2 separate regions of the Homo sapiens genome follow, and region 1 is linked to region 2. Evidence: fine-mapped expression QTL. Tissue or cell type: nucleus accumbens. Region 2 holds a variant in brackets; the other region holds the start of a gene. All regions are shown on one strand. Distances are from middle to middle.

What was found. PIP is the estimated chance that this variant, and not a neighbour inherited with it, causes the effect.
Region 1: it holds the start of TM7SF3, and the variant in region 2 is fine-mapped to the expression of TM7SF3 in nucleus accumbens (GTEx, PIP above 0.99).

Annotation. Positions count from the first base shown.
Region 1 is chr12:27,010,377-27,018,524 of GRCh38, reverse strand. It overlaps TM7SF3 (transmembrane 7 superfamily member 3), which reads left to right and starts at 4,141. Exons shown (of 12, transcript NM_016551.3): 1 at 4,141-4,447. The coding sequence starts at 4,357. RefSeq lists a silencer at 3,949-4,448.
Region 2 is chr12:26,963,727-26,971,029 of GRCh38, reverse strand. It overlaps FGFR1OP2 (FGFR1 oncogene partner 2), which reads right to left. Exons shown (of 7, transcript NM_015633.3): 7 at 4,382-6,434. The coding sequence ends at 6,297. Among named protein-coding and RNA genes, the nearest start is that of FGFR1OP2, 29 kb to the right of the region's middle. The variant G/A (reference allele first, on the strand shown) is at 3,482.

The DNA.
Region 1 (8,148 bases), 47 kb before region 2:
GCCTAAACAGACTTTAAGCCTCTAATGATGCATATCTTGGATTTGGGAATCTTTCAGTTTCTGCATTTCCTTTCAATACATAGGAAAAATGAACTAATCTGCAAAGCTGCTAAGCTTGTTTGCTTCTCAGCTCTCCAATGGAACTCTGACATGAGCATGGAACCCCAGCCAATCATCCTCCCAAGCTGTCACAATACTGTACTTAGAAGCCAAGGTAATGAGGCCCTGTTCTGATTGCTGACACATTTGTCATCAACTGTCATGCATGCACAGGCAACTGCAGGCCTGGGGAACTGCGATGCAAAGGTATGGAGGAGAGAGAATAGGCTCAGTTCAGGAAATTGAAATTAATTCAATGTGGCCAGCATGTAGAGGTCTGATTTTAGTTGCAGCAAGAACCTAGGGAGGTGAGCAGGAGTTGCATCACAAAAAGCATTTATGTGTCATACTCAGGAAGGTGGACTTATATCTTGAATGCTTTTATAAGAAAACCTTTAAAATTATATGTATCTTTTACAAAATCATAATTTCTTATTTAAAAATGATACACTTCAATGTAGAACTTTTACACAGAAATGTGCAAAGGAAATCATTCTTAATTTAACCACCTAAAGATAACTATTTTAAACATTTTGGCATATATTTTTCAACCTTTTTTTCTATGTACATAACCAGGAATGCATACTACAAAGAAAACAAGGCAGGCACAGTGGTGTGAGCCTGTAGTAGTCCCAGTTAGTCTGGAGGCTGAGGTGGCAGGATTGCTTGAGTCTGGTGACAGACCAGGAGCACCGTCATCTCGGACAAACACCGCCACTTTAAGTTCCAGCTCCCTTTCTAGCCTCATGCATTTCAAGGAAATCACTTCTCTTCTAACTATAAGCAGCCAGAAAGAGCAGACAGTAAAACACAGATAAGACAGCTCAGGCACAAAGGGAGGTGGGGGGAAATTCTCTTGGGTAACTGCCAAACTTCACCCTCATACAATGGGCCCCAGTAAAACAGTGGGCCTTAGTAAGTACATTCCTTTCCCTTCAGGTGCACTAAGATAGGGAAGCTAAAAGCAGACTCGGGGGTATGCCTGCAGCTGCAAAAAGATGTATGGGAACAGACACACAACTCTCCCTCCCAGATAAGCACAACAGACACAGAAGCAGTCCAAGCCTCTGATAAACTCTCCCACCCTAAATCCTTAAAAACTCTTATTAGTCCGTAAGAGAGTGTGCCTCTAACCTAACTGGCCAGAAGCCCCTTTCAGGTTTGTTTTCTCTAAAATAAACTTGTCCTTGACTTCTAAGCCACCTTTCCTGTTTCTTTCTTCTTTAATTCTTACATCTGGGAGTTTAAGGCCAGCCTGGGTAACATAGTGAGATCTTGTCTCTTAAAAAAAAATTACAGGCCGGGTGTGGTGGCTCACGCCTGTAATCCCAGCACTTCAGGAGGCCGAGGTGGGCAGATCACAAGGTCAGGATTTCCAAACCAGCCTGGCCAACGTGGTGAAACCCCATCTCTACTAAAAAAAAATACAAAAATTAGCCGGGCATGGTGGTGTGTGCCTGTAATCCCAGCTACTTGGGAGGCGGAGGCAGGAGAATTGCTTGAACCCGGGAGGCAGAGGTTGCAGTGAGCCAAGATTGCACCACTGCACTCTAGCCTGGGGGACAGAACAAGACTCCATTTAAAAAAACAAACAAACAACAAAAGTATCCATTCCTCTGAGTCAATAAAAGATGTATGTTAAAAAAAAAAAAAAGCCACGTACTATATATACTTATTGCATCATAACTTGCCTTTTCATAAAGACTTCAATCAGAATATAAATGAAGGGCTGCACAGGATCCTCTTATAAAGCTCTATCATAGGTTATTTAACTCCTAATTGTTGGGCATTTAGGTTGTTTTAGATGTTTCTGCTACTCTAAATAATACTCTATGAATAGTTCTGTACACTATTTTTTTTTAAGAGATGGGGTCTCACTATGTTGCCCAGGCTGGAGGGCAGTGGCTATTCACAGGTGCAATCATACAGCACTGCCCTCTTGAACTCCTGGGCTCAAGTAATCCTCCTGCCTCAGCCCCCTGAGTATCTGGGACTACAGGCGCATACCACTTCCCCCAGCTTATACTAATTTTTATATGTGTATTTAATTATGTACTTAAATCTAAAAGTGGATTATACCAAATCTACAAAAATAAGATTTTTAAACATTTTTGATGCCGATTACTTTATTAAAGTGTATATTCCCAGTATCCCTACCTAAGAATGCCTCCTTCTTAGCTCTTTTATCCACACTGGATGTTTTATACTTTTAAAATGTTTACATCTTAGTTTGTTAATTTGATTTTTTTATTTGTTTACTAGTGAGATTGAACTTTTTTCATGTATTTACTGGTAATTTGTATTTCTTTTTTGGGGTGAAATTCCCCATTCATGTCCTTTGCTAATTTTTTTTTTTTGGTCAACTTGCCTTTTCATATTGTTTGTGTGTTTACTTTAATAAAATTTAAATATTTATGTAAAAAGCATTTACGTAGCCAAGTCTACCAATCTTTTCCTTTATGGTTGTTTCCTTTGCTGTTTTGCTTCTTAGAAAGCTCCTCCCATTTTGAGATCAATTTATTAAAAAAAAAAAAGAGCGCCCTCTTCTGCTAGCTCTTTTATGGTTTTATTACTTTGGGATTTTGTTTTCACAATTAGTGTGAGATAGAGTTCTGCTTCTCTCTGCCCATAGTGCAGCTAATCAGTTAAGAACACAATTTATTGAATAATCCATCCACTGATTCAGATGCTACCCTTATCATAATTGTCCCTTTCATCTTCCTTGGATTTCATCTACTGAGGGTTATAGGAATAGGGGCATGTGGGAGAGTGAATAAGCACTACAGAAATAGATAGTGCTACCAAAGGTGTGAAAATTTGGACCAGGCAGTGGGAAAGCAGAGAAAGAATTGTGCCTATGACAAAGATTATTTGCTTGGCCAAACTCTAGTACGGCTTCTGAATCTTCTGCTAGGTCCATCTGTGCACTTCTTTGTAAAAATCCAGTTTTAGCAAAGAACCCCCTTTCCTCCATATCTAATCAGTTTTCTCACCCTGCACCATCCCCCAGGTGATGTTATGTCTTCAGAAGTCCTGTTAGGTCAGTTTCACCAAATGCCCCTTACCTCTGATGCTTCCTCTTAGTAATTTTCCATCCACTGAACTCCATACTGCTGGTTGGCTATAAATTCCCTCTTGCCCACGCTGTATTCGGAGTTGAGCCCAGTCCCTCTTCCCCACTGCAAGACCCAGTTGCAGTGGTCCCTATGCCAATTGAGACAGTCCTCAATAGTCTTCGTTCGGTGCTTTAACAAGTATCATTGAATAATTTTGTCTTTAACACTTCTTCACATTATGGTCACAGCTATATATTGTTAGCTTAGTAGTGGACTAACTGAACATGTAATTTCCAAGCTATAAGTTGCTCATCAAAATATATAAGTGAAAAAAATTAAAACCAGGGAAGGAAAGCAAGACAATCCTCCCCAAATAACGTTAAGTCTATGCGTCTAATTCCACATCATCGATGAGCCATCTGTCACATGGACTACTGTCCCTCAAACAGCACTCAGGTATGAGACTTGAGACGAAGTTCAGACCAAGGCCGTGTCTTCGAGGATATTTCGCTTAGAGAAAACGAAACTACTTTTAAATGTAGTGCTTATGACTAGTGCGGTAACCACTACACAAACAGCATTCTCCTGGCATTTTTATGCTAACATAAGCCTCAGCAGCGAAGACAATTGCTACCGGGGGAAATAACCTTCAATTGTGTTTTTAGCAACTGATTCCTCTTTTTTGCTGTTGTAAAGGGCCGTTAAACACGGAAACAGGAGCCTGGCGACGTTAGTCCGCAACAGAAAGTTATTTTGTACTTTCACAGTGGGTTTGCCTACTTGGTGAGATAAAAGTGGGGCAAGACCGGGCCTCAAGCCAGGACTTCCTGGGGGCTCCCGGGAGCACCGCAGGCTGCGCGTTCCCCGCGCGCCGGCAGGAGGCGCGCGCTGCCTGGAAACGCCCCAGCGCCGCCCGCGCCCAGAGACCCGCCGCTGTGACGCAGCGAGAGCCCGGGAGGAGGCGCGGGAACGCGCGTTGGGGGTCAGGTGCCGGAAGAGGAAACCTCTCGCTGGGGCTAGGAGTTCGGCGGGGCGCGCGCCGGCGGCTGCGGAGCTGGCAGGTGCGAAGCGTCTGCACCTGGCGGGCGATGGCGCCCGATGCGGGCGCCCCGGGATAGCGTGGGCGAGGCTGCGGGGCCCCGGCGCGCACGCCCGCACCTCTCCCCAGCCCTGGCGTGGGCCCAGCCCGGCCCAGGCAGCAATGGGGTTCCTGCAGCTGCTGGTCGTAGCGGTGCTGGCATCCGAACACCGGGTGGCTGGTGCAGCCGAGGTCTTCGGGAATTCCAGCGAGGGTAAGGTCGGGGCGCCTGGCTTCTGCAACCCAAAGTTGCTTTTGCATTTCTTGCGAGGTCAAAATCCGCCAGGGGTCTGTCAGCCTAGCAGGGAGATGGTGCTGGGGGCGTTGGTACACGCTGGGTGGTGAGTCCAGAACCGGCACGAATGGTGTTTCCTGCAGCGGAAACACTCATGGCTAAGGAGGTCTTACTATTAACCTCCTCATTTAGCGGAGGAAATGGGAAGAGATAAATAATTCTCTTTTTTTAACACAGTATTATCTCCCTTAGGGAGCAGCCATGTTTGTGGCTTTAATTCAACTTACTAAAGCGCCTCTTTGCTGCCCAGTGGACTGTCTGAGCTTCTGGACAGCAAGACTTGGGGTGGAACTAGCGGCTTAATGACTGATGGCTCTCAAGCTGCATGGAATTTTTACACCCCCAAATCTAGAGGCTTTTCAAACTGGTTATGTTCTACAGAGTTTGAGAGGGAAAATGAACCCATAATGAGGCTTTATTTTTAAAGAGCCTTTACCATCTAATTTATTAATACCATCTGGAGACAGGAAAACATTCCATACTCACAATGAGAAATAAAGGACTTTCTGAATTACAGATACATAGACATACAGATAGAATGTGTATACCCTCAATTCTACAAGTTCAGCCACAAATGAAAAATAAACACAGAAACACAAAAGCTTGCCAGTCCAGGTATCAGAGTTGTTCTCCTTACTTGAGGGCAAGAAATTTCTAATCGATTTGACCTTAAAAAAGACAAATGGACAAAAACTGTGTTCTCTGTTGTCTCATATCCAACAGGAAATAGATCTCTATGAGATATTAATTCGTTTACAGAGATCACAAAATTCCCAATCATTGCAGCTACCAACAGGAAATAACTTGTCATCCATAAATGAACTGTAAAAAATAACAATTTAATAGAGAGTAAAACTAAAATGAGAAAAACAAGAATCAACGAAGTTCTATTGCCACTTCAAATTCACCTGTGGGAGCCAAGAAGCAACATGCCCGGGCTTGGCTCCCTATGAGTACACCATTTTTGATGATTTCAGGTGACTTTTTTTTTTTTTTTTTTTGACGGAGTCTCGCTCTGTCGCCTAGGCTGGAGTGCAGTGGCATGATCTTGGCTGACTGCAACCTCCGACACCCGGGTTCAAGCAATTCTCCTGCCTCAGCCTCCAGAGTAGCTGGGATTACAGGCGCCCGCCACCACACCCAGCTAGTTTTTGTATTTTTAGTACAGGCGGGGTTTCACCATGTTGTTCAGGCTGGTCTCGAACTCCTGACCTCGTGATCTGCCCGCCTTGGCCTCCCAGAGTGCTGGGATTACAGGCATGAGCCACCGCGCCCGGCCGATTTCAGGTAATTCTTGTTCATCTCAGTGAGAACTCAGAATGGGATGTTAGATTGTAAGTCTTGTGCTTGGTGAATGGGTTTGGGCAACAGCTCATGGTTTGTTAATATAAAATGTAAAAGGCACTAGTTGTGCCAGGCAGATCATCATGTGCTTTTCCATGAAACTAAGCACATTCTGTTTTGTTTTGAGGTTAATAGACTAGTTGCAGTTCTGAAACATAATATTTTCTGAATAATGTGATTGTGTTGCTATGCACTTATCTTTGAAAAGCCCTTGTGCAAACTGAATTCTAGGATCTTTGTATATAGGACTGAGGCCAAAGCTGAAAAGGGCAACTTTTTTTTTTGCAGAAAAACCTTGCTTATAATAGGGCACTAACATTCACTCTGTATAGTGTGTGCCAGGTGCTTTCCACGTGCAGTGTTATTTAATCCCCACCACCCTACAATGTAATGATCTTCCTCCCTTGTCAGAGGAACAAATGAACAGCTGCTAGGGTTACAGATAGGACTTGAACCCAGGTGAGTCTCCCTGCAAATTTCATAGTCCTTCCACTTCCGTAAAGCTGTCTTCCAATAAGAATATCTTACATGGCATGGTGCTTTGTACTTAATCCTTCTGTGAATCCTCATTCTTCAAAATAGCCTTATGATGGAGGTAGAAGAGATGCTATCTCTATTTTAACAGGTGAAGAATTTGAGATATTAGAGTTTTTAGTTGATCGAGGCCAGCCCCTGAGTCAGGAGAGCAGGCGTCCAGAACTTTTTCTTTCTACTTGGTGTTAGTATTTAATACCTAGAAATTTTTATACAAAAGTTAAAAAATATGAATAAATTGAGAAATTAATTTTTTTCAGACACTGCTTTTTGCCTCTTTGCTATGATTATAGCACTGATATTCCTCAATGTTATTCTTTTTGCCTTGCATTGGTATTGTCATTCTGTGCAGAAGAGGGACAATGTGGGGACTTAACTGCTGAGTGATAATAAAAGCTGATATTCTCCACATCTATCAGCTAAAAATCAGTATAGAAAGGTAGAAGGACATAGTTCAGGACTTGCATAATCCTCCTAGAAAATGGCTGGATTGATGTTTGATGATGATAATTCTGATAACCATACAAACTGAAGAAATTGAGCATCTGCTGTAATTTAGGAGGATTTACCCATCTTTGGCAGGATGAGCTAACTTGCATGACTTCTGTAGTGGCCTGAATGCTAAATAAATCTTGGAACGTGGCAGATGGAGTTCCTAGAATGTCTGAGGAGGGTGCTTTCTGTGACCAGTAGGCACATGAGATGGATCATACTTTTAAGCAGTTTTCCCTTCTCTTGGAGTCCCAGTTCACTGCTGCCTTTAACATCTTTCATTTGTTTAGATTCATATCCAGTAACTCCCGTGGAATTTCATAGTAATTGGACTTGAGCACAGCATCATTTGGGCCTTTCAGTCTTCTTGCTATTGATGATGCTTTACCAAGGTAGCAGGCTGTTCATGGTTAGTTGCAAGTGCTGTCTTTCTCTAAAAAGTGTGTGAAGCTAATATGTTCATTTTTGTGTTCCCTTTCAACCTTTAGGGCTATTGAACATTTGTAAGAAGATAACAATGAGAAATTGGGAGGGGCGGTTGACTGCTGACCAACTCAAGTAGCTGAACCATTTTTGTTTTTAATGTGAAGAGAATTATGAAGACTAGGCTATGATGGATTTCTCTTAGAATTTGGTTGTTGTGTTGAAACACAAACAGTAGAAGTAAATTTTAGTAAAATAGTAAAAAGGAAGAGTTGGAAATTTTTATGGTTGCCAGATTAGGATCTGATTCGGAAAGAAAAAGGAAAGTATTAGGATTGGGCAGCTCTTTTTAAAGTGGAATTATTGGAAAGAAAAAGTGATTCTGGGTAAGAATGGAAGATGGGTGTGAAAAATTGTTTCAAGTCCCTACTATAGGTCAGATGGCAAAAAAAGCCATTTCTTTTTAGAGGAAAGCTAATGTAAGTGCCCCAACTTGATGTTAGCCATTTGCTTTGTAATATCTTTTGATGTGCTGTCTTTTTTCCTCCTACTCTGCAAGTCATAAGATATAATTATGCCTCATAAAATGCTTCTAATAAATCCTTTTCCATATGCCTTAGAGGTGAAGTTAAATTCCTGTTAGCTTCTTCAGGATATTTTTTGAGTATGTGTCTTCTTTTGCTAAATCTGTTTTTATGAGCAGAAATTAAATGAGTTTCTACCAGACTGAGCTGTTTAAGTTGTCTTGACTTTCAGTATCTTTTGTTGTCACTCTTCGGAAGTCTCTTTCTCAACGTAATGCTTATGATGTGCCTGGAATTTCTGTG
Region 2 (7,303 bases):
CCCTATCCAAATGTGCTTTACACTCATCATGATACAGATGTAAAACCAGGTATTTTCTATTTTCTTCTGCTAACGAATTGATAGGATGTTTCTAATATAAGTATTGCTACGATCGTTCTTTTTGAAAATTATTAATTTTACACAGTGAAAGCATGTTTTTCCAAGTTAATTATCTGAAGTAATGGACCATTTATTTCAAATGATTGGTACATAATATTTAACATTTCCAATATCCATATCTCCACAATAGAAACTTGGTCCGAAGTTCACTCCTAGGTGATGTACTTAATACCTGTTAGTAACATTCATTCAAACCCAGAGTTCTTGGTTCTAATTTCCTGAGAACAGGGCCTTGCCCTAGGGCACAGCCCCTCATTGCATCCCAGCCCTTGTTGGGAGGGCAGCTACCTATGGTTTGCTGATAGACTAAACTGTGCCCCCCAAACAAATTTATATGTTGAAGCCCTAACACCCGGTACCTCAGAATGTGACCTTATTTGGAGACGGGGCCTTTAAAGAGGTTTCAAATTAAATTGAGACTATTAGGGTGGGTCCTAATCCAGTCTGACCAGTGTCTTTGTAAGAAGGGGAGATTAGGACACAGAAACACCAGGTGCATGTGCTCACAGGGGAAAGACCGTGTGAAGAGCAGTAAGAGGGGAGCATCTGCAAGCAGAGGAAACCATCCCTGCTGCACCTTGATCATGGACTTCAGCCTCCAGAACTGTGAGAAATTATTTCTGTTGTTTAAGCCATTCAGTCAGTGGTATTCTGTTATGTCAAAAGAATACACATTACCCTGACTGTTGATTGAAATGCCTCTTGGCAATTTGGCCATTGTATTTGCAAGGACCACTCTTTATGAAATTGACACAAAGAGGGGCTTAAGTTAGTGGGAACTCTGGACTTACCCAGGGACTACCATGTAATCATTACACTGGAGAGGTTGGCAGGTCTGGATCAAGCTTAAGATTTTTTAAAAAATTGTTATACAGGAGTGGCGTGGTGGCTCACGCCTGTAATCCCAGCACTTTGAGAGGCCAAGGTGGGCAGATCACTTGAAGTCAGGAGTTCAAGACCAGCCTGGCCAACATGGTGAAACCCCGTCTCTACTAAAAAATAAAAATAACGAGCCGGGCATGATGGCACATACCTGTCAGCTACTTGGGAGGCTGAGGAGGAAGAATCACTTGAACCCGGGGGGCGGAGGCTGCAGTGAACTGAGATCGCACTATTGCACTCCAGCCTAGGCGACAAAGCAAGACACTGTCTCAAAAAAATAAAAATTATATATATATGATAGTGAGGCTTTGACTTAGATCTCACATTCACTCATTAAATATTTGTTGAGTTCCTGGCCAGGCATTGCCTTGAGCACTAGGAAGATGGAAAACACAGGCATGGTCTTTGCTGTCTGGGACTGGAGTGTGAGACAGATACTAAAATAGTTACACAAGATGTGTAATATGCAATGAAAATGTATAATGGGATAGGGCTAGAAAGTGGGATGCCAAGGAAGGAGTCCTTGAGGAAGTGACATTCCAGCTGAAACTTGGAGGTTGAGTAGGAGTAGCCAAAACCAAGTATGTCATGTGTAGGAAGGGGAGTATTATTAACAGAAGCCTCAAGGCCTCCCCTTCTCATTGTAGAGAGCTGTAAAACCAACACATGCCAATTGTAACCTTGGGTCTGCAACCTAAGTTTAACTCTTAAAACCAAGTTTTGTTAAATCTCACACTGACAATGCTGATAACAAGCTTATCTTCCCAGGTACAGAATAAGGATGAGACAAAATCAACCACTCTTCTGCCTACCCTGAAACAGATGAATAACTGAGTCTTTACTCCCTTTTTTCAGTTTATCTTATATGAAACATAGATTTACTGAGCGTTAATCAGAGCCTCACAAGAATGTAATCATTTGCCTCACTGCCTAACCCCTCTCCCTTTTCCCTCCTCACTCTCTCCCCTAAATAATGAGTTTCCAAAACCCTCTTTAGAAAGCTCAGGTCACAGATGCTCATGTGGCTTGCGTTTTTTCTCTGGCATGTCTTTAAACTTTGGCCCAATAAACCTCTACTGATTTAAGACACTTGCCTCAGTCACTTTTTTTGGTTAACAGGTTTTCTGATTCACAAGAAACTTATAATGACCTCTGGAAAGACAGAGGTTGTAGGAAGAGGTTTACTCTGAATTGTAAATTTTTTAGTATGCTAAGATTTTTAACAGTGTACATTTATTTTTTCATTTAAAAAATAACAAAACATGACCTAACAAACTTCTGGGAATTTGCACGCTAGAAATTACAATAAATAAAGTTATGTATATGGATGTTTACTGCATTATTTTGTATTAAACTTTGCAAACTATCCATCAGTTGGGGGAACTGATGAATAAATTACAACTCCATAATGGTAGCTACAAAAATGCTTGATTTACAGGCATCAGAAACTGACTGGCTAATGCAAACAGTACAATTAGCTGGAAGAATACTGATGCTGTTTGCTTCAGGACATTTCCCCGTATGCATCTGATTTTTACATATTTGTAATTATATGGGTAATTTATGTTAAGCTTTTTAATGCATATTTAGGTACTTTTTTCTTCTTGTTGCTAGCATCTTCAAGCCATAGACTGTAATCAACTGTATTGAGTGAATATTGACATTTAACTATTCCCCTACTGTAGGATATTTAGGTTGAATCCAATTTGTATACTTTAACACTACCATAATGTAGCTTTGACCAGGGGTAGCAGTGGAGGAGAGAAATGGTAGGATTCTGATTTATTTGGAAGGAAGAGCCAACAACAGGATTTGCTGATGAATAGGATGCACGATATGAGAAAGTGGAGTCAAAGTTGCCACCAAGGTTTTTGGCCTTAGCAACTGCAAGGATGGAGTTGTCATCAAGCAGGATGGGAAAGAGTATGGAGGCGTTCTGGGAGGTTTGGAGTTTGGCTTTGGACATCTTAAGCATAAAATTTCTCTTTGACAGTCACAGCTGCATGAATCCGGGGTGAGAGGTCTATGCTGGAACTGTGAATTTAGGAGCCATCAAGCATAGAGGTGGTATTTAGTCATGAGACTGGGTGAGATCACCAGTGAGTAGAGACACTGCACAGAATAGGTATAAGGACTAAGCCCAGTGGCTCTCTAATGTTAAGAGGTCAGCGAGAAGAAACAAAGGAGACTGAGGAGCAGCCAGAGAGGTTAAAGGAAAAAGTGTCTCCTCAAATTCCAATTAGAAATTATCATCTTCATCAGTATTTTACTAAAAAATGTTCTCCTATTTCACTCTGACAATGAAAAAAGGTAGTGACCACCAAAATTATGGATCTACGATTGTCCATTTTTCATTGAAGCAATTTTTTTTTTTTTTTTGAGATGGAGTTTCACTATTATTGCCCAGGCTGGAGTGCAATGGTGAGATCTCGGCTCACTGCAACCTCTGCTTCCCAGGTTCAAGCGATTCTCCTGCCTC[G/A]GCCTCCCAAGTAGCTGAGATTACAGGCACCCACCACCATCCCTGGCTAACTTTTTGTATTTTTAGTAGAGACAGGGTTTACCATGTTGGCTAGGCTGGTCTTGAACTCCTGACCTCAACTGATCCACCTGTTTCGGCCTCCCAAAGTGCTGGGATTACAGGGAAGCAATTTATTTCTATAAAATTTTAGAAGTCACCTTGATATTAAAGAATATAAAATTAGAGCAGAAATTGTGAGGTTATAAATTGGTTTTTAAGAACTTTCTTATATAAAATAAAAATATAGTTGATAGATGAAAAACAATAGATGTCTTAGTTTCCTAGGGTTACTCTAACAAATTACCACAGGCTGGGTGAATGAAAACAACAGAAATTTATTTCCTCACAGTTCTGGAGGCCAGAAGTCTGAAATCAAGCAGGCTTGGTCCTTTCTGGAGCCCGTGAAGAACCCATTCCATGCCTCTCTTGCAGCTTCTGGTGGTGGCTAGCAGTCCTTGCGTAACTCATTGCCTCTGTCCTCATGCTGCTATATCTGTGTTTCATATCTCCTCCTCTCTTATTGTAACGACACTAGTCACTGGGTTTGGAGCCCACCCAAAATCCAGGGTAATTATATCCTGAGATCCCCTAATCACATCTGTAAAGACTATTTCCAAATATGGTCACCTTCCCAGGTGTATCAAGTTAGGACTTAGACTTACCTTCTAGGGGACATGATTCAACCTACTACAAATGGTAAGAAGTTCTGCAGGATCCACACTAAGAAGCTGCTAATTCCTAAGGAATACAGATAGAGGTCACTGCTAAGTAGTTTTGCACTAAGAAGAGACAAAAAACCTTAAAATTAAACCATATATAAGAATAAGGGTAAGCACTTTTCAAATTAAATTGGAGACCATACCAATTTTAATCATTCATCTTTAATAATAAAATAGGTTCCTATGCAGTACATACCTCAAACATAAACTTAAGGTTCTGTTTAACAACAACCAAAAAAAAAAAAAAAATAGGATGGAAATGTGTCACTAAATAACAAAGTAAATGTCTTTAAACATGAAGACCTTAAATTCATATCCAAGCAAAAAGACGAAGAATAAGTTAACCCAACTTGTTTACAAAAATAATTATTTATCAAGTAAGCTTTTATAGTAGAGCTGCCTCAATGAACTGCCTCAGACTTAATCTCAATGGTGTAGCTTGAAATAGATTTCCTTTATTAGCAGGGATAAGAAGTATCTGAATGAATGTGTCATTAAATTAAGGAATACTTTCCCAAAAACAATAAAAAGTTTAAAAATAAAAACTGTCATTTATTTATAAAATATCAAATAAGGCCTCTGACTGAAAAAAAGAAATCTATATAATGTTTGGGCCATTAGCCCTTTTCTATTCAATCAGTCTCATCCACCCCATTCACCCCAAACTTAAGATAAAAAAATTCTCAAGTGTAGTTTTGAATTTTACCAATATATGAAATTATACATAAAATTACCATATAAAGTAATATTTAACAAATTATATACTCAAAGTATAATTTTCCATTTGTCTTAATTTTAATACGTATTCAACATAAATGAGTACAATATATTTAACCATGTTTGACACTCTTCTTTTATCCCTTTTTAATACAATCACCACAACATAAGAAAATTTAGGTTTCAACTGATGTTAAAGCACATTTCTGTATCTGGTGGTTTTTAAAAAAATTACATATTATATATTTGACATTTTAAAAGACAACAGAAACAAATCCACAGATTACTCCACCTTTACCCCCACTTTCAGCTGAAAGGTTTTAAGAAAAATCTTGCAGGTTATGAGGACCAGATGGAGCTTAAAAACAGATCCGGAACTTTTTTTTTGAAATTGTATTTACTTTTTTTTTTTGTATCTCAAGAATACTTAAAGGAAAAAAAAAAGGGTTCTATGAGCCAGAGGAATTCCCAATTCACTTTGAAATTACCATACCTATCTTGCCATATCAAACATTTCAATTCTGTTAACTAAATGAACTACATAATATCCTTAAAAATCAGCCAGAGAAGAGAAAAACAAATCTCGTCTTCATTATTGACTTTGAACCAAAACTTATTCTTTCAAAGGAGTAGTTTAACCTACTAAATATGTCTATTATAAGATCTTCTTTCTTAGAAAGTAGTATTCCTTCTTTTTCATTCCTGAAATGGTATTTCTTACACTTAAACAAGTTATGGACAATTGTTAGCTAAGTATCAGTTATGATAAATTGCTAAAATTAAATTATCTGTTTAAGGTACATATAACACATTCCTATAGCCTTTAAAACTGTATTTTCTTTCACAAAAATTTAAATAAATGTGAAAGTAGGCAATCACTAGAAGTCTCATGGTACATAAACTTTGCATCAACTTTGACGCCAAATAAGGATGAAATTTAGCGTACAAATCCTCCGTTCACAAAACAGTGGCAAAAATTTATATTTTTAAATTGGTATAATTTTATGCATTCTCAAACATTTACTGGGAATATTCAAGTTTACCTAATTAATCACCCAGAAAGCCAGCAGTACTGCCAAAAGCTCTTGGTATATTCAGTAGTCACTGTGAAAACTTTTCATTTCTTTACCATTTGGCAATGGCTCAGTTTCTATTTTCCAATTATGTTTTGGAATAAAGTCTATGACCATTAACTATGCATTTTTTGTTGCTATCTCATAGCCCGTGCACTGTACATATTTACAGAGAAAAAAATAAAGGATTGAATTTTCTGTCCATTCATTCATTCACTTATTTGACCATTTGGAGCCATGTAAGAAGCTCACAGACTCAGAAACTCTTCAGCTCTTCCTCAGACTCAAATCACTGTTGGTCACTAATGCTGACAAAGAAGTACTTTCCGACGCATCATCTTTCCTTAGGTTCAAAAATGATTCTCGAGTTATTTGAAGGATCTCTCTCAAGCCTTTGTTTTCTTGCTAAAAGGCAAGCAAAAACAAAGATGCAGTCACTATCTACAAGGTAGCTACAACATCACAAACATATGTTAGGAAAAACTGAACATATGAAGGTATAACAAACAAGCAAGGTCTGTAATTGGCATTAATCTACTCAATGATATATGCAGTTGGCAACTTGAATCTAAAGAACACTTATGCAGCTAGGAATCGTGTTCAACATCTTCCACCACTGCAAAGCCTTCTTACTTAAGCAGCTATAATTGTAAACAGAAGCTCAGAAATTGCCTTATTTTACAATCACATTAGAGATGAAGAAAATAACATCTAGATTTATTTTTATATAAACTCGTAAAGCCAGTGAATAGGCTAGAATCTCCTAGTAATTTTTAGTATTTTTATTACTTTCCATGATAGCATGGAATGTAGGACAAGTTTAGCTCATTGGCATTTGAGAGCAGCAGGGTAGGGGTAGCTGATGATATTTTTCAAGAAGGAAAGTAAGTGACCAAATCTGGCACTGGTAAATAACTTTGCTTTCTGGCCTCCTTTTGGTTAGTTACTGTAAAAAAATTTGTAGACATTTAACAATAACCTTTCATAATTTGTTCTCTATCACTTTATCTTCAGTCTCACTTTCTAAATTTTAGTAGTCTAAAGCAGGTTCCCCGCCGTGATTTCAAAATGAAGCTCTTAAGGCATAAAAGTCTATTGTACTGATTTCAGTTATTCAGAGACTGGTACTTTCACTGTCATAAAATAAAGGACAGATGACAAAGGTTTTTAGAATCCCCAGAAAAATAAGAGTGCCCCTAAATATTTGTGGATTAAAAAAAATTTCCCTGTATCACTATGATCTCTAATAGAATAAACAAAATTTTAAAAATGAC